4 linked regions of the Homo sapiens genome follow. The protein of the gene in region 3 interacts with the protein of the main gene of each other region in a pairwise test. Each region holds a gene or a part of one and is shown on either strand. Other genes may lie near its edges. The genes, in order: ZNF250, NEK6, ZCCHC7 and KIF9.

Region 1 (7,024 bases), on a different chromosome or scaffold from region 3:
AGGTGGAATGCTGCTGACAAATCAGGCAGAAGATAATGGTTGAGAAGACTGTTATCAGCATGAAAATTCAGGGCCCTGGCCTTTGATGTTATATCCCAAAAAGGTAGATAGCCCACATGTTCCAGTAGGTCATGTGCCACCTCTTTCTCCTTGGAGAGGAGGAGGTGAGTGGCAAGAAAATGTAGCCTGGGAATCCTCCTCAGAAAGAAGGGCATTGAAGCCCACTTCCTGGCTCCGTGGACACCTGAGCCTGCATTCTCACCAGTGGATCAATGGCAGCCTGACATAGCAAGAACAGGCAGAATGATATTAAGCTCATTTTAAGAATGCAGGAAAAAAACTATACTTTTTGGAAGGATTTCCCTGAAAACCCTAGGTTATTGGAATCCAGAATAACTTGTACTGTGTAACTTACGTTGTCCTGTGATACACAGTCTTTCTAAACAAATGTTCCTGTATATTGAATTTAATTATTCTCATCTTAATTGGAATATGACTTTGTCTTTAATGATTAGAAATTGGGGCCTGAATAGTAGTGGGCACTGAGCAGCTGCCACTGAGTCACATGCCAGCTGTGGACTCAGCTAACACAGGTTGGCAGCTTCCTTTCATAGAAGATTTAAGATAGCACCACAGTGTTCTCATTTTCTCTCAATTAATATTGAGGTGACCTCAGGTTTCTGGACTTTCATCTCAGTGATCTCATCTAGGTACCTGGGTGATCTCTTGGCTCTGAAGTAACACCTCAGTAATCTCAGTTCCTCTTTGGACTGTTACCTCAGTGATCTCAGCTCCATTCTGAAGTAACTTCTCAGTGATCATAGCTTTTCCCTAAAGTAACCTCTTTCTAAAGCATCACCCCTAGTGATCTCAACCTTTCTCTGAAGAATCACCTTAGTGATTTCAGCCACCTCTGAAGTTAACACCTGTGTGATCTCAACTCCAGTGAACAACTCAGTTATTTCATCTCCTTTCTAAAGTTAACAGCTTAGTGATCTCATTTCCTTTCTGAAGAATCACATCAGCAGTCTCAGCCTCTCTTAAGTAACATCTCTGTGATCTCAGCTTCTAACACCTGAGGGACACCATCTTGGTCCTGAATAATACCTCAGTAACCTCAGCTCCTCCCTTAAGTAACATCTCATTGGTATCAGCTTTTCTCTGAAGCAGAACCTCAGTGATCTCAGCTCCTAAGTAACATCTCAGCATTCTCATCTTTCCGATGGTACAATATAGTGATTTCACTTCCTTTATGAAATAGCACTCAGTGACCTCCATTCTTCTAGAGTTTCACATTAGTGATTTCAACTTCTCTGAAGAAACACCTCTGTGATCTCAGCTTCTCTGAAGAATTACCTCAATGATCTAATCTCTAAAGTAATACCTTAGTGATCCCATTTCCGTTATTTCAGCTCCTCTGAAGTAAACCTCAGTGGTCAGAGCTACTCTGCAGTACCCACTAGTGATGTCAATTCCTTTCAGAAGTAACACCCAGTGATCTCACCTCCTCTCTGATGAAACACCTCAGTGTACTCAGATCCTCTGAAGTAACAAAAATTGTCTCACTTTCTTTCTGAAGTGACGCCTCAGTGATCTCAGCTCTTCTCCAAAGAAACAGTTAAGCTCTTGTCTTCTCTGAACTAACACCTTAGTTATTTTATCTATCTGAAACAACACCTCACAGAATGGCAACACCTCTAAGGTTAACACCTTGGTTATCTGAGCTATCTGAGGTTTCACTTCAGTGATCTCAGTCCCTCTGAAGTAACACCTCAGTAATATTAGTTCCTCTGGAATTTCACTTCAGTGGTTTCAGTTGCTCTGAAGTAAAACACCAGTGATGTCAGCTCCTTTCTCAAGTTAACCAATCAGTTACCAGTTCCTCTCTGGAGTTAATAATTCACTGTTGTCAGTGTCTGTACATAGAAGGGGGAACAAGCTTTTGTCTACATCGTGGTGTTTTGCTGTGGACTTAAGGATCAATGCCTGGATGGGCACAGCAGCTCATGCCTGTAATCCTAACCTTTTGGGAAGGTGAGGTGGGAGGACTGCTTCAGCCCAGGAGTTTGAGGCAGCGGTGAGCCATGATGGCACCACTGCACTCCAACCTGGTGACAGAGCAAGACCGTCTTTAAAACAAACAAAAAGGATCAATATCCTGGTGACTATTTCCTCCCCACCAAACTGACAGATGTTGGGGGCGGGGGCCTGGGGTGAAGACAGCCCTTCTCTATCTCAGGCACTTAACATGTTGAGAATTTCAAGTGGCTTGAACCTCATACATTTGTTTCGTTTGCAGCTGGCTGCTACTAGAAATGGTTCTGATTCGGTTTCAAGAACTGTATCCTTGGCCGGGTGCGGTGGCACACGCCTGTAATCCCAGCACTTTGGGAGGCCGAGGCGGGCGGATCACCTGAGGTCAGGAGTTTGAGACCAGCCTGGCCAACATGGTGAAACCTCATCTCTACTAAAAATACGAAAATTAGTCGGGCGTGGTAGCAGGTGCCTGTAATTCCAGCTACTTGGGAGGCAGAGGCAGGAGAATTGCTTGAACCTGGGAGGTGGAGATTGCAGTGAGCTGAGATTGTGCCATTGCACTTCAGCCTGGGGAACAAGAGCAAGACTTTGTCTCAAAAAAAAAAAAAAAAGTATGCTTAAAACAGAACAAATAATTCTGAATACAAATTTTTAATTATGAATAAACTAGATTCATCTTCATCATAGTAATATGGCAATGGATACTGGACTCTTGAACCAGGAGTAAAAAAATGAAAAAAAAAACCCCTTCAAATATAGGAATAGAAATACTAGAGATAGTAAAAAAGAGCTATCTGAATTTGAGAAATGTATGTTTTAAATATATCTACCAAAGAACAGTATTTTCAGCATTGTTTTGGGGGAAATACCATAAGATGTAAAGAGGTACCCACTTGGTGTAACAGCTATGAGGTCTGCTGAGTGTGAAGCTCCCCTCCTTTGCCTGCATGGGAATTGAGACATCTCACGGTTTCTGGGGCACAGGATCTGCAGGTCATAAGGGCAAGTTTTGAGGAAAATACCCATTTTTGAGTTGAATTTTTACTAAAAAGTTAGCATAACCTTTCTGATCTTGAATAAAGTTAAAAGCTCCAGATAAAGGGTTTTCTAGGCCAGGCATGGTGCCTCACGCCTGTAATCCCAACACTTTCGGAAGCAAAGGTGGGAGGATCACTTGAGGCCAGGAGTTCGAGACCAGCCTGGCCAACACGGTGAAACTCCGTCTCTACTAAAAATACAAAAATTAGCCAGGTGTGGTGGCGCATATCTATAATCCTAGTTACTTGGGAGACTGAGGCACAAGAAAAGCTTGAACCTGGGGTGGGGGCGGAGACTGCAGTGAGCCAAGATCATGCCACTGCACTGCAGCTTGGGCAACAGAGCAAGACTATCTCCACACACACATACAAAAAGTTTTTTAAATTTATGTAATTTCTCACTAATATATAAGCTTTTTCCTTGTTTCATACAAAACAGGACTCCACACACTTAGGATGGAAATCCACACACTTAGGATTTCCAACCATTTTACATGATGCTTGATGAAAATATCTTTTTATATCACTTTATCCATACAATACTTTAGTCTTTTAAGAGAATACTGAAAATAGTCCGACTTTCAAATTTTAAGTGCAATAATTAGTATGGTTAATTGATATTTAGGAAGGGCATGTAATGTTCTTAGAAAAAGAACTTTATTTGGAATGTAAGATTTTATTGGGATAATGGTTCTTATGCCTTAAATTCCCTTAGTTCAAATAAACTAATGTTAAAGAATTATGGCTGTTTTTTACCAAAATTCTCTACAATTGTATGATTACTCTCCAACATAACTTCAAGATGTTGAGGAAAATAAAACAGGTAGTCTCTGAAGTTTTTCCACAGGAACAGCACGCTAAGTGCTTCTTTCTGGAGTTATTTTGTGACACTGAATCGCCAAAGAAAAGCTTCCTATAGAGTTAACAGAGACTTCTCTTGGGCTGAAGGCTGCTTGTGGTTCCACATGCAGTTTCTGTGAGAATGGATTCTTGTGTCAGCCATGGGTCACAACTTTCTGTGCACTTTCTGGTGCTGGATTAGGTGGCCATGCTGGTTGAAGGCACGCCCACACTCCCCGCACTCATAGGGCTTCTCGCCTGTGTGGATCCGCTGGTGCTGGATGAGCACTGAGTACTGGCTGAAGGCCTTCCCGCAGCTATTGCACTCATATGGCTTCTCGCCCGTGTGGGTCCTCAGGTGCACAATCAGAGTTGCTTTCAGGCTGAAGGCTTTGCCACATTCTGTGCACTGGAAGGGCTTTTCACCTGTGTGGATTCTCTCATGCTGGATCAGAGACCGGCGTGCACTGAAGGCGTGCCCACATTCACCACACACATAGGGCTTCTCCCCAGTGTGGACTCTCTGGTGCTGGATCAGGTGTGAGTGCTGAACGAAGGCCTTCCCACATTCGTAGCATGCATAGGGCTTTTCCTCGGTGTGGATCCGCTCGTGATTCATCAGTGTGGAGCGGTGGCTGAAGGTCTTCCCACACTCACTGCACTCATAGGGCTTCTCCCCGGTGTGCACGTTGTGGTGCTGAATGAGGACTGAGCGGTCGCTGAAGGCCTTCCCACACTCGCTGCACGTGTAGGGCTTCTCCCCGGTGTGGATCCTCTGGTGCTGCAGCAGTGTCCTCTTCACACTGAAGGTTTTCCCACACTCATTGCACCTGTGAGGCTTCTCCCCAGTGTGTACCCTCTGGTGGCTCCGCAGAACAGTGCTATGGTTGAAGGCTTTCCCACACAACGGACACACATATGGCCTTTCTCCCGTGTGGATCCGCTGGTGCTGAATGAGATGTGAGAGTTGAGTGAAGGCTTTCCGACACTCAAGACATTCGTGAGGCTTCTCTCCTGTATGTATCTTGTGATGCTGAGCAAGATCTGAGCTCACTCTAAAGGCTTTTCCACACTCATTACACTCATAGGGCTTCTCACCTGTGTGAATTCTCCTGTGTTTACTAAGGACTGAGCTCTGGCTGAAGGCCTTCCCACATACACTGCACACATAGGGCTTCTCTCCAGTGTGGATACGCTGATGCTGAAGGAGGTGGGAACTCCGGCCAAAGCACTTCCCACACTCAACACACATGTAGGGCCTCTCTCCACTAGGCACTGCCTGGTGCGGAGTGAGTGGCATGCTTTGGCTTAAGACCTGAACTTCACGGTGGTCAACAGAGTTTGGACTCAGACAGAAGCTTTGCTTTGTTTCATTATTTTCTTGATCAATCCTCCCCAAGGGTGTTTTCCCCAGAATCACTGTTTGCTCTGAAATTAATGGCTTCGGACTCAAGTCTGTATTTTGACTCTCTCCCTTGGTTTCACATTCTGAAAGAACAAATCCAAAATGAAAATGTTAACACTACTCAAAACTGAAGAGCTAGTGCAACCCTGAAACTGGCCTTGCTGATGAAGGTGCAAAATCCCTCAATGCACACGTTGGTGTGAGCTACAGAAGAACAGAACCACCATAACTGTGTCAAACAACTAGATATCAGAAGATAATGTTTCCAGACAGGAAGGTGCCAAGGCAAGCTTTAAGAGAAAGGTGTAAACTCCAGTTTGAGGTCACACCCCTGTGTGGAGTCCACAGAACAGCAGGGAAACAGCCCAGTGGTGCCTGAGTCCTGCCCTCCCAGGGGTCCTCATGTGGACAGAGCTGAAATACAGGCCCACATAATGTGGGTGCCTTGTGGGGCAGACAGCAGCACTTGGGCAGGCAGGGAGAGGTGTGAGCTATTGTGAGCAAGTCGGGGTGTGCCATCTGGAGGCCAACAGACTTGTACATGAGGTAGGGGTGGTGGTGCTGCCACCTCTTTGTGGAAAATAATTTCTTTTTTTTTTTTTTTGAGAAGGAGCCTTGCTCTGTTATCCAGGCTGGAGTGCAGTGGCACAATCTCGGTTCACTGCAACCCCCACCTCCTGGGGTCAAGCGATTCTCGTGTCTCAGCCTCCTGAGTAACTGGGATTACAGACGCACACCATCATGCCTGGCTAATTTTTGTATTTTTAGTAGAGATGGGGTTTTATCGTGTCGGCCAGACTGGTCTTGAACTCTTGACTTCAAGTGATTCACCCACCTCGGCCTCCCAAAGTGCTGGGATTACAGGCGTGAACCATCGGACCTGGCCATGTGGAAGATAATTTCATGTGGAGAATGCAGTGGCAGGAGGAGGGGAGGGAAGGACAAGACTGAAGGTGCAGAGGGGCATGATGGGAATCTGCTGCCAAGTTTAGGCCACAGATGAGGCCTTCAGGAGCAGAAGCATAGATGGCGGGAAAGGCAGGGGTGGAGACTCTTCTGGGAGCAGGTCGAGCGCTCTGCAGGCTGATTGTGTGTGAGTGGGTGGGAGGTAAGAGGTGCTGAGGACAACAGTGATTTTTTTTTTAGATGGAGTCTCTGTCACCCAAGCTGGAGTACAGTGGCTACTATCATAGCCCACTGCAGCCTCAAGCTGCTTGGGGCTCATATGATCCTCCCGCCTTTGCCTCCCAAAGTGCTGGGAGTACAGGCATGAGCCATTGTGCCTGGCTCTAAACATTATTATATTTTATTTTACTTAGTTATGCGTGTTTCTGAGCTTTCTATAGTTTCATGGAGCACAGTCTTCTGGAACTCGTTTTCCCGTCAGCATTATGTTTTTGAGATCCATCATGTTGTTGTACAGCAGTTAATCATTTTCACTGCAGTATATTCCATTAAGTTAAAATACCATAGTTTATTTATGTCTATTCTGTTTATGAACATAATTCTTTTTTTAGAGACGGAGTCTTACCCTGTCGCCCAGGCTGGAGTGCAATGGGACGAGCTCGGCTCACTGCAACCTCTGCCTCCCGGGTTGAAGTGATTCTCCTGCCTCAGCCTCCCCAGTGGCTGGGATTACAGGCACATGCCACCATGGCTGGCTAATTTTTTTGTATCTTCAGTAGAGACAGGGTTTCACCATGTT
Region 2 (7,024 bases), about 87 Mb from region 3:
GAGGGGACTAGACAGGGGCCCCCTTTTGAAGAGGCCGGTGGCGGGTCCTGGGGCGGGGCCTGGGGCAGGGCTCAGGTGACTGAAAGAATGGAGGCTGGAGCAGGAAGTGGCAGGCCTGGCCGGTCAGGGGGTCTTGAGTGAAAAGCCGAGGAGGGATCTGAGCTGAGAGCCCACCCGATACGGAGCAAGAGCTTGGGCACCACAGTCCCCAGTCCTGGGGTCACACCCCAGCTCTGCTGTTCTTTGCTGCCTGATCAGAACAGGTCACTGCTACCCCTCCAAGCCTCAGATTCCTGAAATGGGGACAGCAGTGAGGCCCACTCACAGGGTTGTTCTGAGGACCCAAAGAGTGGGCGCGTGGGCGGTGTCTGCACAGAGCCCAGCATGCAGTAGACACTCAGGATGCCTGCTCTTCTTAGGTGGGTGCTCTGTGTACAGGTGTATTTACCCGACAGACATTGGCACATGGTGGATAAAATCATCATCTTCCTCCTCCAGCAGCCCTCCAGATCGGGTCCTCTGGCAGGACCCACCATGAGAGGTAATTAGGCCTCGAGGCTTCAAAGTCAAGGTTGGCCCAGCCCTCACCTTGCTGTGTGCTGTGAGGCCTGGACTCCCATCACTCACTCCCGCAGGAGGGTGTTCTGTAGAGTTCCCTCAGCCAAATCTGGAAGAGACATTTTCTTTTTTTTGAGATGGAGTCTCACCGTCACCCAGGCTGGAGTGCAGTAGCACGATCTAGGCCAACTGCAACCTCCGCCTCCCAGGTTCAAGCAATTCTCCTGCCTCGGCCTCCCAAATGGCTGGGATTTACAGGCACCCACCACCACACCCGGCTAATTTTTGTGTTTTTACAAAAATTTTTTGGCCAGGCTGGTCTCAAACTCCTGACCTTAAGTGATCGCCCGCCTCGGCCTCCCACAGTGCTGGGATTACAGGCGTGAGCCACTGCGCCTGGCCTAGAAGAGACATTTTCACTTTACTTTTTTCCCTGCTTTTCCAGTGAGTTTCTATTATTCATTAAGTCATGATTCAGGGTCCCAGAGTAGGGATCACCACATAACCAGGTTCCCCTCAGGCACTCTGGGAGAAGGACAGAGGAGAAGTTGATGGACCCAGCTTAGACCTGCCCAGGAGACGTGCCCCTGCTCCGCAGGCATCTCAGGCTGAGACGCAGCTGGTCCGGCCAGCAGTTCCTGGTGTTTCCAGGTGGGGAAGCAGCTGTCAGAAGGGCCAGTCCTGTAGTTCTCGGTTTGGTCTTGATGCCTTCCGCCAGGGTGCTGGCTCCTAAAGACGCCTCGGTACGGTGCCCGGCTCAGTGTGACCCTCACCAAAGACCCACTTCATGCTAGAAAGTTGAACTGCTTGTTCTGGCTTCACTAGGGGCGGTGGCATGGAGCTGGGTGATGTGGGCATGGCTGGCCCCTCTGGGCCTCAGTTTCCTCATCAGGCAAATGGAGACACAGCCGGGCCCATCTCACCATAGGGCAGGCCAGAGATGTGGCATCCTCTCCCCTTGTCTGTCTCCTCCTTCCCTGGCCCACTGTTGGCGCCCCCTCCTGCCTTTTCCTGAGAGCTCACTGCACAGGTGTCCTGGGGTCCTCCTGGCCACTGTGGTCTCACCTGGAGGCTCCATCCCTGGGCAGGTCCTAGCGCAGGATCATGTGTTCCAATGCTGGCCCCTGCAGAGTCTTTGTGGAGCTCTGGTTTCTTCACGACACCCTAAAAAAGGCAGTTTATCTAAAGGATGGGCTCAGGGTGTAAGGCTGCACATTTTTTTGAGAGGGGGACAGAGTCTCCATCACCCAGGCTGGAGTGCAGTGGCATGATCTCTGCTCACTGCAACCTCTGCCTCCTGGGTTCAAGCGATTCTCATGCCTCAGCCTCCTGAGTAGCTGGAATTATAGGCATGGGCCACCACACCCAGCTAATTTTTATATTTTTAGTGGAGACAGGGTTTCGCCATGTTGGCCAGGCTGGTCTCGAACTCCTGACCTCTCGAACTCCCGCCTCAGCTCCCAAAATGCTGGGATTACAGGCGTGAGCCACCACACCTGGCCAAGGCTATGAATATTAACCTTGGTTTTCTTGTCTGAGATGGGGAACGGCTGCCCCAGGAAGGGAACTTGCCATTTCTTATGATGACCTGGGGCATTTTGCATGGTGGCCACGGGCTGGGGATACATGAGCTGCACCCGGCTTACCGGACCCCAGTTTGGGCATCAAGGATTCAGGAGAGGATGAGACGGGCAACGCCCGTGGTCCCACGGAGCTAGCCCCCAGGGATGGGACTCAGAGACAGCAAACAAACAAGCAGTCAGACAATGAAGGTGGTGATGAGGGCAGTGGGGAGCATGAACAGCCTCAGTTTTTCACCTGCACTGGGGGTCCTTGAGGGGACCCAGGGGACCCTGTGCAGAAAGCCCCCTGGGGGGGTGCCTGGGAGGCTCCCAGAGCAGGGTTGGCAGCAGAGTCCCTCCTTCACCTTAGAGGGTGCTGTTGGGGTGCTGGGCCTCTAGGGGTCGTCCCCAGGCCTCTGCTGCAGCCTGGCTGCTCACGGAGGCCCTCTGTCCCCCGTTCCAGAGGCATCCCAACACGCTGTCTTTTCGCTGCTCGCTGGCGGACTTCCAGATCGAAAAGAAGATAGGCCGAGGACAGTTCAGCGAGGTGTACAAGGCCACCTGCCTGCTGGACAGGAAGACAGTGGCTCTGAAGAAGGTGCAGGTGAGCTGACAACCCGTGGGGTCAAACCTGCATCTCGGGAGGTGGTCTCTGCATCTGGACGGGGTGCCCGGGCCAGTCCCTTCTCTCCCCTCTTCTGTGAACGAGGGAAACAGCACTCAACTCACTGGGTTACAGAGAGAACCAGGTGGACTCCTATTGATGAAAGTTCACTGTGAACTGCAAAGGAAAAGAAAAACGAGCATGCATTGAGCGCCTGCTGTGTACTGGGTCATGCAAGGAGCACATGGAGCCTCTCAACAGTCCCGTGGGTGGGGATTGTCATTTCATCTCTCAGATGAGGAAAATCTCATAACCGCCAGGGCCCCAGCATGAGTCTTGGGGGAGCTGAGGTTCATACCATGTCCACCCATCCTTGCGCCTGCGGTTGCTCCACAGTTCTGGGCTTCCTGCCTTCTGCGTCCCTCCTAAATGGAGGAAGTAGGTCAAGCGGCAAAGTCAGGACAGGAGCCATGTCCATGAGAGCCGCTGGGCCCGTCTGAACACAGCTTTGCCGGAGGAAATGGCTTTAAATCCTCCAGCAAAGCTTCCCAAGCCCCTTGATTTGCTTACTTGTCCTTAAAGAACAAGATTGAGAGCCTGGGCAGAGGAGGGCCGGGAGAGAGAATGGCGTTGGGGAAATGGGGAGAGAACACCCGCAGCTTCAGGGCGCTGGAGGAGTAGCAGGGTCCTCTCTGTCCAAAAAAGGACCAGTTTCTCTCTTGATCTTGTTTTTTTTTTGAGATAGAGTCTCAGTCTATCACCCAGGCTGTAGTGCAGTGGCGTGATCAGCTCACTGCAACCTCTGCCTCCCGGGTTCAAGCGATTCTCCTGCCTAGGTCTCTTGAGTAGCTGGGACTACAGGCGTGCACCACCACACCCAGCTAATTTTTATATTTTTAGTAGAGACGGGGTTTCACCATGTTGGCCAGGCTGGTCTCGAACTCCTGACCTCAAGTGATCCACCCACCTCAGCCTCGCTGGGATTACAGGTGTGAGCCACTGTGCCTGGCCCGCCCTCTCCATCTTCTGGGGAGGGGCTCACCTGGGCTCTCTGTCTTGGTTCTTTAGTGCCACGATGGGTTTTGTGGTGGGACAGTGCTGGGGGGACCCACAGTGAGCAAGCCCTACAGGGGCTGGGAGTGCAGGGGGGGGTCACAGAGTCCCTTGGTGAGGAGGTGGGAGAGCCGGGACTGGAAAGCAGACCCCGTGGCCTCCTTTGGGTCACTGGACACAGATTGTAACCACTCTATTTCTCTTTTTCCTCCCGCCCAAGATCTTTGAGATGATGGACGCCAAGGCGAGGCAGGACTGTGTCAAGGAGATCGGCCTCTTGAAGGTGAGCACCCTGGGCCGAGCGGGAGCTTTGCCTCCTCGGGGAGGTTCTGGGGCCGCGGCTGGGCCACATCATGTCCATCACAGCCCTTGGGTGCCAGGAATCCGCAGCCCCTGCTAAGTTAACAGACGATAGCTTTCTAGGGGCAGCGGCTAGTGAGTTTTCTCCTGGCCAGGCAGGAGCGGCCCGCCTCATCGCTCTGCCCAGCCCTTGGGGTCGCTGCCTACAGCCTTTCCTCCTTGCTGCACGCCCCTCCTGCTTGTACATGGCAGTACCCGGCATAGAAGTCCTTCCCCACAGGGCAGCCCTGACCCTGCCTCGCAGTGGCCTATGGACCAGGCTTGGCTAGGGGAGGAGTTCATTGTGGGGACCACATCCAGACTGCAGCCTGTCTGGCTCTGCCTCTGTCTCTATGTCTGTCTCCCTGTTTTTCTCTTTCTCATCCTCTTTCCATCTCTCCTCTCAGCCTTTTTCTTTGGTTTTGTTGGTAGTGGTGGTGGTGGTGGTGGTGGTGGGTTTTTTTTTTATTTTAGAGGCAAACTCTGTTGCCTGGACTGTAGTGCAGTGGCATGATCATAGCTCACTGCAGCCTCAAACTCCTGGGCTCAAGCAATCCTCCCGCCTCAGTCTCCCGAGTAGCTGGGACCACAGGCGCATGCCACCACACCTGATTTTTATTTTTTATTTCTTTTGTTTTTTTTTGAGACAGAGTTTTGCTCTTGTTGCCCAGGCTGGAGTGCAGTGGCACAATCTCTGCTCACTGCAATCCCCACCTTCTCGGTTCAAGCAGTTCTCCTGTCTCAGTCTCCTGGGATTACAGGCACCCACCACCACACCCAGCTAATTTTCATATTTTTAGTAGAGACAGCGTTTCACCATGTTGACCAGCCTGGTCTCAACCTCCTGACCTCAGGTGATCCATCCACCTCAGCCTCCCAAAGTGCTGGGATTACAGGCGGGAGCCACCGCACCCGGCCCCCCATGAAACATACTGGATTTGCTCGGCAGTTTCCAGCAAAGTGGGACTGCTGGTGGCAGGGCTGCCCGCCGAAGCCACAGCTGCAGAATTTCAGATTAGCAGTTTTTTCTGCCACACGCTGCCCTGTGTTCTCAGGCCTTGGCCCTGCTCTTGGGGACTTCCAGGCTGGTGGGGAAGCAGGTAGGAAGCAGATGGTGACCTTCCAGGGTGATGCAGATTGACTGGTGGGCCAGGAGCCCCAGGGAAACCCGCTTCCTGGGCAGGCCTCACAGAGGGCAGGGCACCATCCCAGAATCTGGAAGGCCGAAGTGAGCCTTCTTCCAGGCACCGCAGCACCGTGGATTATGGGAGGTTGGGGAGACAGAAGGCTGGACATGGCAGCAGAGCCAGATACACACTCAGAACAAAAGGGGAGCCCCTGAAGTGGCTGCAAGTCGGGGGGCCATGGCTGGGTGTGAGTTGTGAGTGCCTGCTCTGGTGGCCCCCGGCCACAGTGGGTGAGGGAGTCAAGGCTGGAGGCAGGAGGTGTCCTTACCACTAACTATTATAGGTCAAAAAATATCCCTCGAAAACATTGTTTAAATGTTTAAGTAATGGTCAGCTTGCTGCCACTTACCCAGCCCTGAGGAATGTTTGTCCTGATCACCCATTGCCCCCTCCCCACCTCATGTGCCCTTCTCCCCGAGTGAAGGAACCCACAGGTGAGCATGCTGAGCACAGCCTGGTCTGGTCCCTGGTCACACAGATGTGCCACCGCAGCCCCTGCCTTGCAGGAGCCTGAGCCTGGCGTAAACCCACATGGCTGCAGAGGGGATTTGGTCCCTTCTCCAGGGCTGCCATGCAGCCAAGGGCACCAAGCCGGGGTTTCAGAGGACACACCCCTCGCTCACTAGCTGTGTGGCTGCAGGCCAGCCATGGGCCTCTCAGGACCTCAGTTTCCTCATCTGTAAAGGGGGCATGATGACAACAGGGACGCTGGAGGAGTCAGTGAGGAAGCATGTCTGACGAGCTCAGGGCAGCGCTGGTGTGTGGTACGCTCGCCGCCCAAGGCAGCCCAGTTGTCATGGTTGCCACCTCTGCCCGCCAATGCCAGCCGCCTTCCCGAACACGGGTCCCACTCCACAGGTAGCCCATGGGAAGTCAACAGGATGTGCCAGGGCACGAGGTGCTTCCTACAAAACAAAAGGAAACGTGGTTTTCGGAGGGGTGACTGTTGACATATCACATCATTCATGCAAAGAACCCAAACCCAAAACCTCTCAAGTGCGGGGGCTGGTGGGGTCGGCAGCTGCCAAGCGTGGGACAAGAAGGTGGGTCCTGTTGGAACGCAGGCGTGTGTTCATTCATTCTGTGCAATTTCTGATCACCACTGAATGCTGGACACCAGGGTGCAGCCCAGTGGAGAAGACAGATCATAGACACTCTGTGTTACATCCGGGAGGGCCTGGAGCTTGGGAGCAGAGCCCCTGATGGCAGAGATTCAAAGGACAGGGACCCTTACTCTCAGCTCTCCCTCCCTTCCCTCTGGCCACCACCACAGCCAGACAAAGCCCAACCACATTGCGTCTTTGCAGCACCTTCCCTGTCCCTGACCCAAGTGTGTCCCCTTCCAGACCCACCTGGGCCCACCAAGAGGCCACAGGCTGTGAAGTGGACTCCATGTGGACCAGGTTCTAGACTCAGCTCGGCCCCTGCTTGCTGTGGACCCGTGGCTGATCCCTTCCCCTCTCTGGACCTTGGCGATTTAGCCCAATGGACGTCTGGAGCCCCTTTCTGCCTGTGCCTGTGTAGACTGCCTGGGCATTTAAGGGAGCCCTTCCTTAACCCCCTGCCCTCAGACGTGCAGGGAAATGGGGGAGGAGTCTCCCTCCTCCCCTCCCCAGGAACCAGCGCCTCCTTGATGGGGCTTTACTTCCTACCCAACCCCTCTCATTTCTCCCTTGTTGGAGAAACTGTGTCATGCCTGGACTGCTGATGACCTGGGCAGT
Region 3 (7,872 bases):
GGGATTAAGAATAGAGCCATAGGCACACCTGTGAATGTATGCCAAAAATAAACTACAGAACCATAATAAAAACTGACTTCCTTGGGTCAAAGGATTTATCTCTTTCCCTGAAATGTAGAAAAATGAATTTAACAATTTAGCCCCTATGGCCTTTAAGAGGATTTTGTACCGTCTGTACTTGAAAATTGTGCTGGGCATAACGTGCTCTCTTATTTAGGTAGTTTATGTATGCCAGGGTTAAGGTCTGCCTAAGGTTGTTTTCGTTAATGTTACTGCTTTAATTACGTTCAAATGAATTTAATTTACCCTTTTAAAAAGTGTCTTGGAAGACAATATATGTTTTTTACACACACACGCACACGCACACACACACACACACACACACACACACACACACCCTTGACTCAGAAGGCTTTCTCAGCTTTTTTATCCCTGTACATGATTCCCAAGTATACTAACTAGGTAACAAAATCAGATTATCTCATACAGACTCCTCAATCTTCCCATCAGGAAACTGAAATACAAAGAGATAGGAAGCCTATTCAAGGTTATGCAGCTGGTTAAGAACACGGCTAGAAGTGATTCACATTTCTGTGATTCTCAGCCAACTGTTTACTAAAATTTTTAAACAAATTTCTTTTTTTCCCCCTTGAGACGGAGTCTCGTTCTGTCCCCCAGGTGAGAGTGCAGTGGCGCAATCTCGGCTCACTGCAACCTCCTCCTCCTGGGTTCAAGAAATTCTCCTGCCTCCGCCTCCCAAGTAGCTGGGATTACAGGCACGCGCCACCACGCCTGGGTAATTTTTGTATTCTTAGCAGAGACGGGTTTCACCATGTTGGCCAGGCTGGTCTCGAACTCCTGACCTCGTGATCCGCCCCACTCGGACTCCCAAAGTGCCTGGATTACAGGCGTGAGCCACCGCACATGGCCCAAAATAAAATTTTCAAATAAGTTAACTTCAAATTAAGATTTTTTGAAGAAAAACCTTCCTTCATTGCAATATTTGCATTGGTTCTAACACCTAAATTTACCTCACAAATATCCATTTTATGTCCCAGCAGAGTTTAAAAACTAAATGAGACATTTTAGGTGTAAGGAAAACACACGTTTGTCAGTTTGCCATTTAAGAATCTCCCAAGTTGGTACTCAAAAACTATCAATCCCATGACCAGAAAAGATGTTTCCTATATAACATCTTAAAATATCATGCAAATGAAACTTATCTAAGAATTAAAATACCTTAACAAATATAAAACAGCTATAGAATAACTGCAAAGGCTATTACCATTCAAAAGAGGGAGCAGTATTCATTGACTGAATTGTTTTAAACTAGACAACTTAAGGCTTATTTAAGCTTTCAGCATTTACTTAACACAGTCTTTAATCAATCCTTCTGCTCTCACAGTCTACCTACTGGTCATTCTGACCTTTTGCTCTTATTTACTTCCAAATATCTTTAGCCTCCCTAGATGTTCCTTCTTGATGACACACGCATCCATCTCCGGCCGATTTAAATCAAATCCACAGCCTCATTTTCAGTCCAATTTTCATTGGAATGTGATGAATACACTTTACTTTCAAAGTAAAATTTTTCTTACTCTTAGTAAGCTGCCCTGACAGGACAGTTGAAACACAATTGTCTAAAGGGTTAAAATGTCTGTCCATTTTTCAAATGCGATGGCCACTCTGAATCAAATCTGATTGGGATGGAGAATCCAAATGTGTAAAACAAAAGTCACAAAAGACAAACAGAGCACAGTATTTCAGTGGGGGAAAAAAAATAAGCTAAATTTAGTCACTTAAGTCCCAGCTCTTCTTGGGATATATATATGATTTTTACGAGAACTAATCCTATCCGGAAACATTTCCTTCACCTTTCCCTTAGCCCTTTTCCTTCGGTCATGCAGTCTCTTACCGTGCTAATTATCATATTAATATAATCCTCACTTGCGATCCTTCCTGACTTTATTCCCCATGCTCAGATTCTCCTGAAAGCATAACGCTTTCCTAAGTATACACACAATCCATTTAAAAGTCTTTGTATGCGACAGCCTAACTATTCAAACACGAAGTCATTTCTCTAACGGTCCTAGAAAAAATTTTAAAAAGAAAAAGAAAACCACAAAGTCAAGAGCTTCTGAGGGGACCTGAAAAGTCATCAAATTGAACGCTCTCGTTTTATAGTTGGAGAAAGGAGCTCAGAGAAACTTATTCACTGAGCTAAAAAGGCCCTACTAATGCAGCCCGTAATTCAACTGTGCAATCTGAAATAATCTTAAATTCAGCTTCAATAAGAGCTTTCTGGAATCGCCAGCGAATCCGTGGGGGAGCCACGGCTAGAACCCAGGCCTCCTGATTCCCAGCCACAGCTTTTCCACCGAACCAGCAGCTCTTCCCAAAAGTTGAAGGCAACTGTCCGCTCACAGGATGGGAGGGATAAAGGGCGCCTTAGTAAACACAGTCCAAGTCTACTCGTTTTACATGAGGAAAGGGTCACAGCTCCCGAAATTTTGGATTCTACTGCTGCAGCTGCTGCTTCTGACAGCAGAGGCGGGAGGTGGCCCAGGACTACTCGGTCCTCAAAGACTGGACTCTCTCTCGGCGCGCCGGGACCTCCGCGCTTCACTGACTGGCTTCCCTAGAAGACTGGGGGCCTTGCGGGGAAATAAAAAGGGCAGACACGCCACCCTCACCGAGGCCCTAGACGCCCAGCCGCTCTAGAATCACGGCATTAGCCCTTGGAAAGCCAGGGAGACGCGGACCCCCTAGACCCGCAGCCCGGCCGCGTGGGGCGGCGCGCAGGTGACGGACCAGGAGCTGCGCCCTGCCACGAGTGAGGGGCGGACGGGAGACGTCGAGGCCGGCGAGGGGGCACGCGCTAGTTCCACAGCCCGGCGGGCAAGAAGGAGGGTAGGCAGGGGTCCCGAGCCGCGGGCGGCGGGGGTCCGTCACACACATACTCACTGCCGCAGCTGCGAACAGGAAGCACCAACCGGGAACCAAAACGCGTAGAGGGACGGGGAGGGGCGAGGACAAATGAGGTAAGGAGGCCGCGTCCGCGCAGACCCGGGAGGGAAGGCACTTCCGGGGACAACACAGCTCTAGTCACCGCCTTTCCGTCCCCGCCCACCTGCCGCGCCTGATGTGCGCATGCGTAGTGGGTGCGAACCGTTCTCTGCCCCGCCCATAATTATTAGGTTTGCCTTCCTTGCTTTCCCCCTTCCCCTTCCCAACTTCTCTTGAAGCTACCTAGGCTGCATCTATTATTTGAATGACTCGTACGAAGGAGATGCTATTTACCGGGCAAAAGCCGGGGAGTTCGTGCCCTCTACCCCCGCGAGGAAAACTACAACCCCCATGAGGACACGGGCGAGGTTGAGGCCGGGCTCCGCCTCCTTCTCCCTGGCGCTCGGTGGACGCCTTCTCAGTGCCACGTGGCGCGGGAGCCTAGCTGATCGCGTGCATGACGAGGGCCAGCGTGGCTGGCTGCTTGGCCCGCAGACCTGGGCAGCGGGAAACGCGTACTTGAGAGCGCATGGCTTCAAGCTTCTCCCTTGCGCTCATGATCTTAGGCTGGTCGCTTTTTCTTTTAGGCGGAACACAGTTCACACTGGGCGCCTCCAACTCTCTGGAATTCTAGGCAACAGATTAACACTTTGTGAATCTCGAAGAGCTGCACTCCTGCTAAATATTGGAGTTAATGCTGATCCTTTGGAAGTCTCTGAAGGTTGCAAGATTGTGCTGGGAGCCTCTGGCTTCATTTGCCCTTCTCACACCTTATTTTAATACAAGGTAAACCCATCTGTAGAACTTTAGAAATAACTGTCGACCTAAAGGAAAAACTGAGGCAAAGTTAATATAAGTGGAGAATTTATTTGGGCCAAGTTTGATGAGGGCAACCTGGGATCATCAATTCAAGTTGCCCTTAATATGTGATCCGATAAGCAGCAGTTTCAACTGAGTTCTTTGTCTTGTGAAGCTCCAGGCTTAAAGGTATCGATCCTCCCACCTCTGTCTCCCAAAGCACTGGGATCACAGGCATGAGCCATTACACTTCTTGTAGCAGCTACGAGTGAATTTTTTTCTTTCTTTATGGTTTTTTTTTTTTTTTTTTTTTTTTTTTTCCTGAGACGGAGTTTCGCAGTTGTTGCCCAGGCTGGAGTGCAATGGCGCGGTCTCGGCTCACTGCAACCTCCGCCTCCCAGATTCAAGCCATCCTCCTGCCTCAGCCTCCGAAGTAGCTGGGATTACAGGCGCCTGCCACCACGCCCAGCTAATTTTTGTATTTTTAGTAGAGTCGGGGTTTCACCATGTTGGCCAGGCTGGTCTCGAACTCCTGGCCTCGACCTGCCAAAGTGCTGGGATTAGAGGCGTGAGCCACCGCGCCCGGCCACGAGTGAATTTTTAAAGGAAAAAAGAAGAGGCTTTTGCTAAACTACATACCAAGAATTGACACTAAAATAACATAAGCTATCCATTGGCTACACATTGTTCTTTCTATCACAAATTTTAGGAACACGAAGATAAAGGGTGATGCAGGTACTGGGAAGAAAAGAACAAAATGCCTTTAAACAATTGCCACACACCCCTACCCCCCACCCCCACCCCCACCACCACCTACATGGGATGGTGCTAACTGAAGTACCATACTCAAGTCCCTCTGGGCCTGATAAAGTTTGAATGCCTGCCTGGCTAATGGGGTAGCTCTCACCTGTTTGGGAGCCCGAAGTGGGAGGATAGCTTAAGGCCGAGAATTCGAAACCAGCCGGGGTAATATAGCAAGACGCTGTCTCTACAAAAAAATTTAAAAATTTAAAAATTAACTGGGCGACTGGGCGCAGTGGCTCACGCCTGTAATCCCAGCACTTTGGGAGGCCGAGGCGGGCGGATCACCTGAGGTCAGGAGTTGGAGACCAGCCTGACCAACATGGCGAAACCCCGTCTCTAGTAAAAATACAAAATTAGCCGGGCGTGATGGCGCATGCCTGTAATCCTAGCCACTCCTGAGGTTAAGGCAGGAGAATCGCTTTAACCCGGCAGGCGGAGGTTGCAGTGAGCCGAGATTGCGCCATTGCACTCCACCCTGGGCAGCAAGAGAGAAACTCCGTGTCAAAAAAATAATAATAATAACAGGGCGTGGTGGCCCACACCTGGAGTCCCAGCTGTTCCTGGCTGAGGTTTGAACTGCGGAGGTCTAGGCTGCAGTGAGCCGAGATCGCACCATTGCACTCCAGAATGAGACCGTCTGAACAAAAATGTTTAAAGCTCAAGCAAGGTGCCTCATGGCTGTAATCCCAGCACTTTGGGAGGTTGAGGCAGGTGGATCGCTTGAGCTCAGGAGTTGGAGACCAGCCTGGGCAACATAAGAAGACCCCATCTATATTTAAAATAAGATCCTTTTCTTAATTAAAAAATTATATAAAAATAAATTTAAAAAAACAAATCTTTTTATAAAAATAAAAATAAATAAGAAATTTTAAATAGTAAAAATTAGCCAGGCGTGGTGGCACACAACTGTATTCCTAGCTACTAAGGAGGCCAAGGTGAGAAGATTGCTTGAGCCTGAGAGTTCAAGGTCATAGTGAGCTGTGATCACACCACTGCACTCCAGCCTGGATGAGAGACCCCATATCTTTAATTTTTAAAAAAATTATTTTTGCATACCTTTAACGTAACTTAGACTGCTCTGAACTATTTTTCTCCTCTCATAATGACACACTGCCAATTCATTGGCCTATTTCAATTCTCCTCAAGACAAGTGTGAGTTTGATTGTTTTCACCAACGTTTATTGAACATCTATCTGTTAAAAGACGGTGTTAGAAAGTGCAGAAAAGCTGTAAATTTTTAAGTCACTGATCTCATAGAGATAGGCATCTAGCTAGGAAAACAGTTATAGTCTAGGAGTTTGGCCAGAAAAGAATTAGAACATTTAATTAACATTATGGGGTAAGTGCTGGGAAGGAGAAGGACAAGGTACTATGAAAAGGTAAAATTGGAGAACCACTTTCCAGAAAAGAAAACAGGCATAGAAGCACATCACAGATGACTAGATTGTTTGTTTTGGTAATATGTATTGTGTAAAACAAATGTCACCTTTTTAAAAATTTAAAAATATATTGCCAGGATTACTCCTGTCCATCTATTATAATATTTTAAATTTCGACAACACTTTGTGGATTTTTTTTTTTTTTTTGAGAAAGGGTCTTGCTCTGTCACCCAGGCTGGAGTGCAGTGGTGTAATCACAGCTCACTGAAACCTATCTCCCAAATGATGCTCCCGCATTAACCTCCCAAGTAGCTGGGACTAAAGGCACACACCACCATGCTGAGTTAATTATTTTTTTAATTTTTAAAACTTTTTTGTAGAGATAGGGTCTCCCCGTATTGCCCAGGCTGGTCTCCAGCTTCTGGGCTCCAGGCCTCAAGTGATCCCCCCACCTCAGCCTCCCAAAGTCCTAGGATTACAGGCATGAGACACTCAGCCCCACCAATACTTTCAAGTTGATGTTTTAAGTTCCAATTTCACACACACAAAAAAAGAAAAGAGGCGTAGAAAGGCTAAGTAAAACTTATAGAAGGCCACAAGTATAGGAAATAATAGTTATGTGCTTCATAATGACATTCCACTCAAAACCAGACTGCATATATGATGATTATTTTATCATATTTTTACTGTACCTCTTCCATGTTTAGATGCACAAATACTTATTGTGTTATAGTCACCTACAGTATTCAGTACAGTAACATGTAGCAGTTTGTAATCTGGGAGCAATAGGCTACATCATGTGGCCTAGGTGTTTACTTGACTATACCATCTAGGTTTGTGTAAATATGCTCGATGAAGTTTGCACAATGAAAAAATCACCTAACAATGCACTTCTCAAAACTTATCCCCATCATTAAATGACACGACTGTACTCCTAATTACCATGTCCCATCTTCCCACTGTCACACATGCATTCAACAAAGATTTACTGCTTTCCCATGCTCAGAATGCTTCAGCCTACCCCTTTAGTTTATGTCTTCAAACCTAGAGTCCTTTGGATGGCATAAAAGGCACTTCATGAGCTGACATCTGCCTACTGTTGACGCTGAATCCTGGGCAGTTGCCAGAACACACCATGCCCTCCCACACCTGTGCCTTTGCAGAGAACACTCCACTGCCTGTAAAGCCCTTCTCCCTGTCCTTCTAACATATACCCACTCACCCTACTCTGCTGAAGTTTTGGGTCTTCAGGGAAACTTTCCACCTTAGCCTCTCTCCACATACACAGCATTTCTCTTTCTAATTGAAGCTGTCTCTACTCCCCATTTCTCCTTTTTATTTTATTTTATTTTTTTTTTGACGCAGGGTCTCACTCTGTCACTCAGGCTGGAGTGCAGTGGTGTAAACACAGCTCACTGGAGCCTCAACCTCCTGGGCTCAAGAGATCCTCCCACCTGAGCCTCCCAAGAAGCTGGGACTACAGGCGTGCATCACCACACTGCACCTGGCTAATTTAAAACTATATACATTTTGTAGAGATGGGATCTCGCCATGTTGACCAGGCTGGTCTTGAACTGTCTCAAGCAGTCCTCCCGCCTCAGTGTGAACCACAGTGCTCAGCCCCTACTTCTTGAAATCATGGGTGACAGCATGCACAAATATCCTGAAGTCTTTCTTACAGAGTATCTTCTAAAGAGACCAACGTTTATTTTATTTATTTATTTATTTATTTATTTATTTATTTATTTGAGATGGAGTCTCACTCTATCACCCAGGCTGGAGAGCAGTGGCGCGATCTCGGCTCACTGCAAACTCCTCCGCCTCCCGGGTTCACGCCATTCTCCTGCCTCAGCCTCCTGAGTAGCTAGGACTACAGGCACCCGCC
Region 4 (7,024 bases), on a different chromosome or scaffold from region 3:
TGGTCCCGCTTCTGGTCCCCAAGGGCAATGATGGCCTGCTCCAGGAATGAGAGCGATTTGTTGATGTAGGTGGCTTCCTTCAGGACTTGGCCCTCAGACTACAAAGCAAAGGTCAGTTCCACTTTGGATGGAATAAAGCAGCTGCCCCACTAAGAATAGCAGTCTTCCTGGTCTGGAGAAATGCTATAAGTCTGTGGTCAGGTCAGCGCCTCCTTCCCAGAACCAGGGTCTTCTTTCAATGTCATGCGATTGTATTCCATCTTGGGCTAATAATGGTAATACCAAAACTCAGAAATATTCATGTGAACACTCATGTGAATACTCATGCGAATGTGAATGCTTACATGAATATTCATATGGACATTCACTCAAAGATTCACACTAATATGAATATGTACTGAAATACTTGTCTAGATATTTGAGCAAAGAATCCTGTGAATATTCACACAAACACTCATGAATGCACATACAAATGCTCATCTGAATACTCTTGTTAATACTTCTGCTAATACACTCATACAAATATTTATTTGAAATACTCATGCAAATACTCATACGAATACTCATATTCATTCACAAAGAAGCCAGGTGTGGTGGCTCACACTTGTAATCCCAGCACTTTGGGAGGCCAAAGCAGGAGGATCGCTTGAGCCCAGGAGTTCAAGTTCAGCCTTGGCAACATAGCGAGACCCCGTCTCTACAAAAAAATTTAAAAATTAGCTGGTCATGGTGGTGCATACCTGTGGTCCCAGATACTTGAGACACTGAAGTGGGATGATCACTTGAGCCTGGGAGGTCAAGGCTGCAGTGAGCTGTATTTGTGCTACTGTACCCCAGCCTGGGAGACACGGCGAGACTGTGTCTCAAAACAACAACAACAAAAACACACACAGAGAAATGCTATACCAGCAAGGAATATTTACTGAGCACTGAGTGCCAGGCACTTTGCTAAGAATGTAGAGGGCACTATCTCATTTAATGTTTACAAAAATCCTCTGAGGTAGGAACCGCCCCCAGGTAATAGCCGTTCCCTTTTTGCAAATCCTGTCCCTCCAGCAAGCCCACATGTCCCACTTCGCCTAGCTCAGGACTGTGTTCACAAATATCCAATGAGTCATGGCCCAGATGTGCAGGCACTGTGCCAGAAAAAGGGCTTGTGGTTTATTGAGTAGCAACCTCCAGCCCCCATCACTTACCCCAGACTTCCCCAGCCTCTCTGAGCCTGCCAGATCCACCAAGTTAATTTTGGAAGTGATGTACTTTTCCTCTGATAAGGTCCGGGAATGGGCCTACAAAACATCCAAGCAGAAGTTAGACTGTCACAGGGAGAAGTTTCTGACTGAGCAGGCCCCGTGGGAATTGACTGCCCCGCCTGGGCTGATCAAAGAGCTTGCACCTACCTCTAAGTAGATGGTGAAAATGCAGTGTGATCTGGAAGAGTTTTTGTTCATAGTGTGGGAGGCTATAATCCTGTTGGTCTCACCCTGAAGAGGAAGGGAATCATAGGCAACATTTCGAAAAACTAAAACGACAAGGCACTTGGGTCATTTTTCAATTATACCAATAGCTACACAAGTGGTCTCATATCACTGCGATCAGCTGGGCCTTCCAGGCAAACCTCTTTTATAAACTAATAGAAAGGGAGTCAAATTGGAGTCCACATCTACACTTTCACCCGCCGCTGGGGAAGTGTGAATTGGTATAGCTTTCTGGAAAGCAAAGTGACAATAAAAATCAAGAGCCTTAAAAATGTTTATGAATATTGAATCAGAATCAACCTGCATGTCCAACAATTTGGGAATGATCTATGTATACAGTGGGATATTGGGCAGCCAGGAAAATGCTGACACATAGTTTTTAATAACAGAGAGAAATGTAGAATCCAAAATCATATTATAGCTGATCTAAGAAATGCAAAAGCATTCATAGAAGAAATAAGCAGAATTCTGCTAATAAGATGTTAATAATAGTTGCTTCTGGGTTGGGGTTTATAGGTTATTTTATCTTTTTTATACAGTTTTGTGGGTTTTTTTTAGTGAGCATGTATTACTATAAAAATAATAATTTATATTTTTATTTATTTTGTGTTCTCCTTTTTTTTTTTTTTTTTGGGAGAGCATCTCAGTCTGTCACCCATACTAGAGTGTGGTGGCACGATCTCGGCTCACTATAACCTCTGCCTCCCGGGCCCAAGCCATCCTCCCACCTCGGCTTCCTGAGTAGCTGGGACTACCAGCGTGCACTACCACACCTGGCTAATTTTTGTATTTTTTGTAGAGACAGGGTTTCACCATGTGCCCAGGCTGGTCTGGAACTTATGAGTTCAAGAGATCTGCCCGCCTCGGCCTGCTACAGTGCTGGGATTACAGGCATGAGCCACTGTGCCTGACCTAGTAATTTGTATTTTTAAAGGGACAGTAGGCCCTTACCTCTAATTTACAGGAGGAGGCCTTATGACCAGAATATACTTAAAAAGGAATTTTTTGTAGAGACAGGGTGGTGGTGTGGTGGAAATGGCTGTTCTTGGAGAAAAAGGTCCTTGAGGGATAGACTGATGTCTCCTTAAATGCTGATGAGAAGTGCTATGAACAAGCCCCAAAGTGAGGGTGGGGGACAGCCCCCCCTGGGGAGAGGAGAGCACCCGCTGAAGAGGGAAGGCCTGAGGCTGTGGAGCAAGCCTAGCAGACTCCTGTGGCCATACCTCTATAGCTTATAGTAGTGAGGCTATAGTCTATGGTCAGGCCTGTTCTACAAATCCAGTGACACTCACCAAGAATATAAGGGGTCACTTCATTTTTCTTCTTCTTTTTTTTTTTTTTTTTGAGATCATTCTCACTCTGTTGCCCAGGCTGAAGTGCAGTGGCGTGATGTTGGCTCACTGCAACTTCTGCCTCCCGGGCTCAAGTGATCCTCCTACCTCAGCCTCCCAGGTAGCTAAAATCACAGGTACAGGCCACCATGCCAGGCTAATTTTTTATATTTTTTTGTAGAGACAGGGTTTCGCCATGTTGCTCAGACTGGTCTTAAACTCCTGAGCTCAAGCAATCCTCCTGCCTTAGCCTCCCAAAGTGCTGGGATTACAGGCATGAGCCACCACAGCAGGTCATTCACCTTTACTCTTCAGTCCCCCTTCTGAAGTACCCTCTTGCCTTGTCTTTCTTTTTTTGTATTTTTAATAGAGAGGGGGTTTCACCATGTTGGCCAGGCTGGTCTCGAACTCCTGACTTCCAGTGATCCGCCTGCCCCGGCCTCCCAAAGCTCTGGGATTACAGGTGTGAGACACCGCGCCTGGCCTTGCCTTGTCTTTCTGGCCCTTTAAAAAAGATCCTGCTATTGACGTTGAGGAAGTAAGTTGCTATGTTGTGAGAAGGCACTATGATCATGCCTGTGAATAGCCATTGCACATGTGCCCATTGCCTGGGCAACACAGCGAGAACTTGCATAAAAAAATAAAGAGTTCCTAGCCTATATGACTTCTAAAAGAATAACATACACTTGACTGATTTCTTTTCTTGTTTTTGAGACAGAGTGTTGCTCTATTACCCAGGTTGGAGTGCAGTGGCATGATCTCAGCTTACTGAAACCTCTACCTGCTGGGCTCAAGTGATTCTCCCACCTCAGCTTCCCAAGCAGCTGGGACCACAGGCATGCGCCCCCATGCCTGGCTAATTTTTGTATTTTTGGTAGAGGTGGGGTTTCACTGTGTTGCCCAGGCTGGTCTTGAACTCATGAGCTCAAGTGATCCACCCGCCTTGGCCTCCCAAAGTGCTGGAATTACAGGCGTGAGCCACTGTGCCAGTGCATTTGACTGGTTTCTAAGAGCCTTTATTTTATTTTTTTGAGATGGAGTCTTACTCTATTGCCCAGGCTGGAGTGCAATGGCTTAATCTCAGCTCACTGCAGCCTCTGCCTCCTGGGTTCAAGCAATTCTCCTGCCTCAGCCCCCCGAGTAGCTGGGATTACAGGTGCCCACCACCACTCCCAGCTAATTTTTTTTTTTTTTTTTTTTTTTTTTGAGATGGAGTCTCCCTCTGTCGCCAGGCTGGAGTGCAGTGGCACAATCTCAGCTCACTGCAACCTCTGCCTCCCGGGTTCAAGCTATTCTCCTGCCTAAGCCTCCTGAGTAGTTGGGAGTTAGCGCCACCACATCCAGCTAATTTTTGTATTTGTAGTAGAGACGGGGTTTCACCATGTTGGCCAGGATGGTCTCAATCTCCTGATCTTGTGATCCGCCTGCCTCCGCCTCCCAAAGTGTTGGGATTACAGGCATGAGCCACCGTGCCCAGCCTAATTTTTGTATTGTTAGTGGAGATGAGGTTTCACCATGTTGGCTAAGCTGGTCTCGAACTCCTGACCTCAGGTGATCCACCCACCTCAGCCTCTCAAAGTGCTGGGATTACAGGCATGAGCCACCGCACCTGGCTCTAAGAGCTTTTGTATAGTAAGGATGCTAATTCTTATTTTTCTCTTTTTCTTTTCTTTTTTTTTTTTGAGAAGGAGTTTTGCTCTTGTTGCCCAGGTTGGAGTGCAATGGTACGATCTTGGCTCACTGCAACCAGTGCCTCCCGGGTTCAAGTGATTCTCCTGCCTCAGCCTCCCTAGTAGCTGGGATTACAGGCACCCGCCACCACACCCAGCTTATTTTTTGTATTTTTAGTAGAGATGGGGTTTCACTATGTTGGCCAGGCTGGTCTCAAACTCCTGATCTCAGGTGATCCACCCACCTCAGCCTCCCAAAGTGCTAGGATTACAGGCATCACCCACTGCACCCGGCCTTATTTTTTTCCATACAAGAGCTCATAATTTAACTGAAAAAAGGGACATAAGAATCATTTCAACTATGTAAAGAAAAAGCTGCACAGGAAAAAAGACTGGAAGGAAATGAGCTAAAATATACATTATTGTTGCCTTATGTAAAAAACAGATTATGCATGAATCATTTTTTCTTTTTATTTACGTAACAGGAAAGGAAGAGGAAATAAAATTCTTTTTTGTTCCTTTTTTTTTTCAGCACTATCTGAACTTGCTAAATGTGCATATATTAATTTCCATTCTGATAATCAAAGTAAGTAAAAAACTAGCTGGACACAGTAGCTTGCCTGTAATCCCTGCACTTTGAGAGGCCGAAGTGGGAAGATCGCTTGAGCCCAAGAGTTCAAGACCAGCCTGGGCAACATGGCCAGACCTTGTCTCTACAAAAAAAAAAAAAAAAAAATTAAGTGGGCATGGTAGCATGCTCCTGTGGTCCCAGCTACTTGGGAGGCTGAGGCAGGAGGATCACTTGAGCCCAGGAGGTCGAGGCTGCAGTGAGCCATGTTCATGCCAGTATACTCCAGACTTGGAGAAAAACCAAGATCCTGTCTCAAAAAAAGAAAAAGAAAAAGAAAAAGAAAAGCTGAGAAGGAGGGTGGCAGGGAGGGAGAGAAGGAAAGGAACCCTCAGGTTTTATTATCTCACCTCAAAAAGGAGGCTGAATGCATCCTCCTCCTGACTTGTGAGGTGAACTGACAAGCCCTTAATGAAGACTCCTTGAGGGTTTTCCACGATGGTCATTGGTGTGACTGAGGGTCCAACATAGGGCAGAGTGGACAGGAGATCAAACAGGCTCTCATTATAGATTTCCAAGTAGGAAACACGCACAGTGATGGCATGTGTGGGGCGTTCTTCGATCATCCTAAAAACCTAGATGACAGATTGTACAGCGGTCACCAAGAGCAGAACCCCAACAGCCAACTAGCATAAGGGGGGCTTCCTAACTCAGAAGGGAACATCAAGATGTATAGAATAATTATTGTCCTAAAGGAATTGGGTGATATTTAGTATCATCTTGTAGTGTTTTGAGGCTTGACATCAGATTGGCTAACACTTAAACCATCTCACGAAGTAGAGGCATAATGAGTGGAAAGGACTCTGGAGTGAGGATTTCTTATTTTAGAGTCTCATCATTTATATGCCTCTTTCAAATCTATTTAATTCCATCCACATATAAATCTCTGTGAATGAGGCAGTGCAGGAGCAATACGTATTTGTGGAAGGCACTACAAAATAAAATTATTTGTCAGCCGGGTGTGGTGGCTCACACCTGTGAGCCCAGCACTTTGGAAGGCGGAGGTGGGCAGATCATGAGGTCAGGAGATCGAGACCATCCTGGCCAACATGGTGAAACCCTGTCTCTACTAAAATTACACAAATTAGCTGGGCGTGGTGGCGTGCGCCTGTAGTCCCAGCGACTCGGGAGGCTGAGGCAGGAGAATCTCTTGAACCCAGGACGCAGAGCTTGCAGTGAGATGAGATCACGCCACTGCACTCCAGCCTGGGTGACAGTGAGACTCCATCTAAAAAATAAATAAATAAATAAATAAATAATTTGTCTATTGGTCACTCAGCTAGTAAGGGTAGAAGTAAAGCCAGAACTCAGCCTTCTCAACTCCTAATTCCCTCCCCAGTGCTTATCAAGGAAGGGATAATTCCTGAGGTCCTGCCTTCCTCTAAGAATTTAGACCGGTTTTGTTCAAAATAGTAGACACAAGTTACAGATGGCTGCTGAGTATCTAAAATGTGGCTAGTACAAATGAACTGAATTTTAAATTTTATGTAATTTTAATTACAGTTAGATTTAAAAACTGATGCAATTCAGTTATTGGTAAACTTTAAGTATGTCTGGAACAACTTGGGTATGTAAATCTACTTTTTCAACATTTTATGAAATCTAAATACAGATCAAGCATTTCTGATAATATTTATGCCTAAACTGAAATGTGCCCCAAGTATAAAATATGTACTGGATTTCAAAGACTTAGTATGAGAAAAAGAATGTAAACTATCTCAATAAGTTTATATTGATTACATGCGGAAATATTTTAAATATATTTAGTTAAATAAAATATATCATTAAAATTAATTTCATCTGTTTATTTTTACTTTTTAAAATGTGGTTACTGGAAAACTCAAATTTGCATGTGACTTACAGTATATTTCTATTAGTGGCACTGGGCTAGATTACTAAAGTCTAAGATGCTGAGAT

The links.
Region 1: the proteins of ZCCHC7 (region 3) and ZNF250 interact in binary tests that used the Homo sapiens proteins (3 or more experiments, as listed by UniProt).
Region 2: the proteins of ZCCHC7 (region 3) and NEK6 interact in binary tests that used the Homo sapiens proteins (3 or more experiments, as listed by UniProt).
Region 4: the proteins of ZCCHC7 (region 3) and KIF9 interact in binary tests that used the Homo sapiens proteins (3 or more experiments, as listed by UniProt).

The regions. Positions count from the first base shown.
Region 1 is NC_000008.11:144,877,435-144,884,458, forward strand, and holds part of ZNF250 (zinc finger protein 250), read right to left. Parts: intron 5,403-7,024; coding exon 4,081-5,402; 3' UTR 1-4,080. UniProt on the Homo sapiens protein: May be involved in transcriptional regulation.
Region 2 is NC_000009.12:124,309,926-124,316,949, forward strand, and holds part of NEK6 (serine/threonine-protein kinase Nek6), read left to right. Parts: intron 1-2,583; coding exon 2,584-2,724; intron 2,725-3,997; coding exon 3,998-4,060; intron 4,061-7,024. UniProt on the Homo sapiens protein: Protein kinase which plays an important role in mitotic cell cycle progression. Required for chromosome segregation at metaphase-anaphase transition, robust mitotic spindle formation and cytokinesis.
Region 3 is NC_000009.12:37,115,716-37,123,587, reverse strand, and holds the start of ZCCHC7 (zinc finger CCHC domain-containing protein 7), read right to left. Parts: upstream 3,015-7,872; 5' UTR 2,965-3,014; exon of another isoform or gene 1,916-2,964; intron 1-1,915.
Region 4 is NC_000003.12:47,265,780-47,272,803, forward strand, and holds part of KIF9 (kinesin-like protein KIF9), read right to left. Parts: intron 5,683-7,024; coding exon 5,458-5,682; intron 1,485-5,457; coding exon 1,401-1,484; intron 1,290-1,400; coding exon 1,197-1,289; intron 99-1,196; coding exon 1-98. UniProt on the Homo sapiens protein: Essential for normal male fertility and for progressive motility of spermatozoa.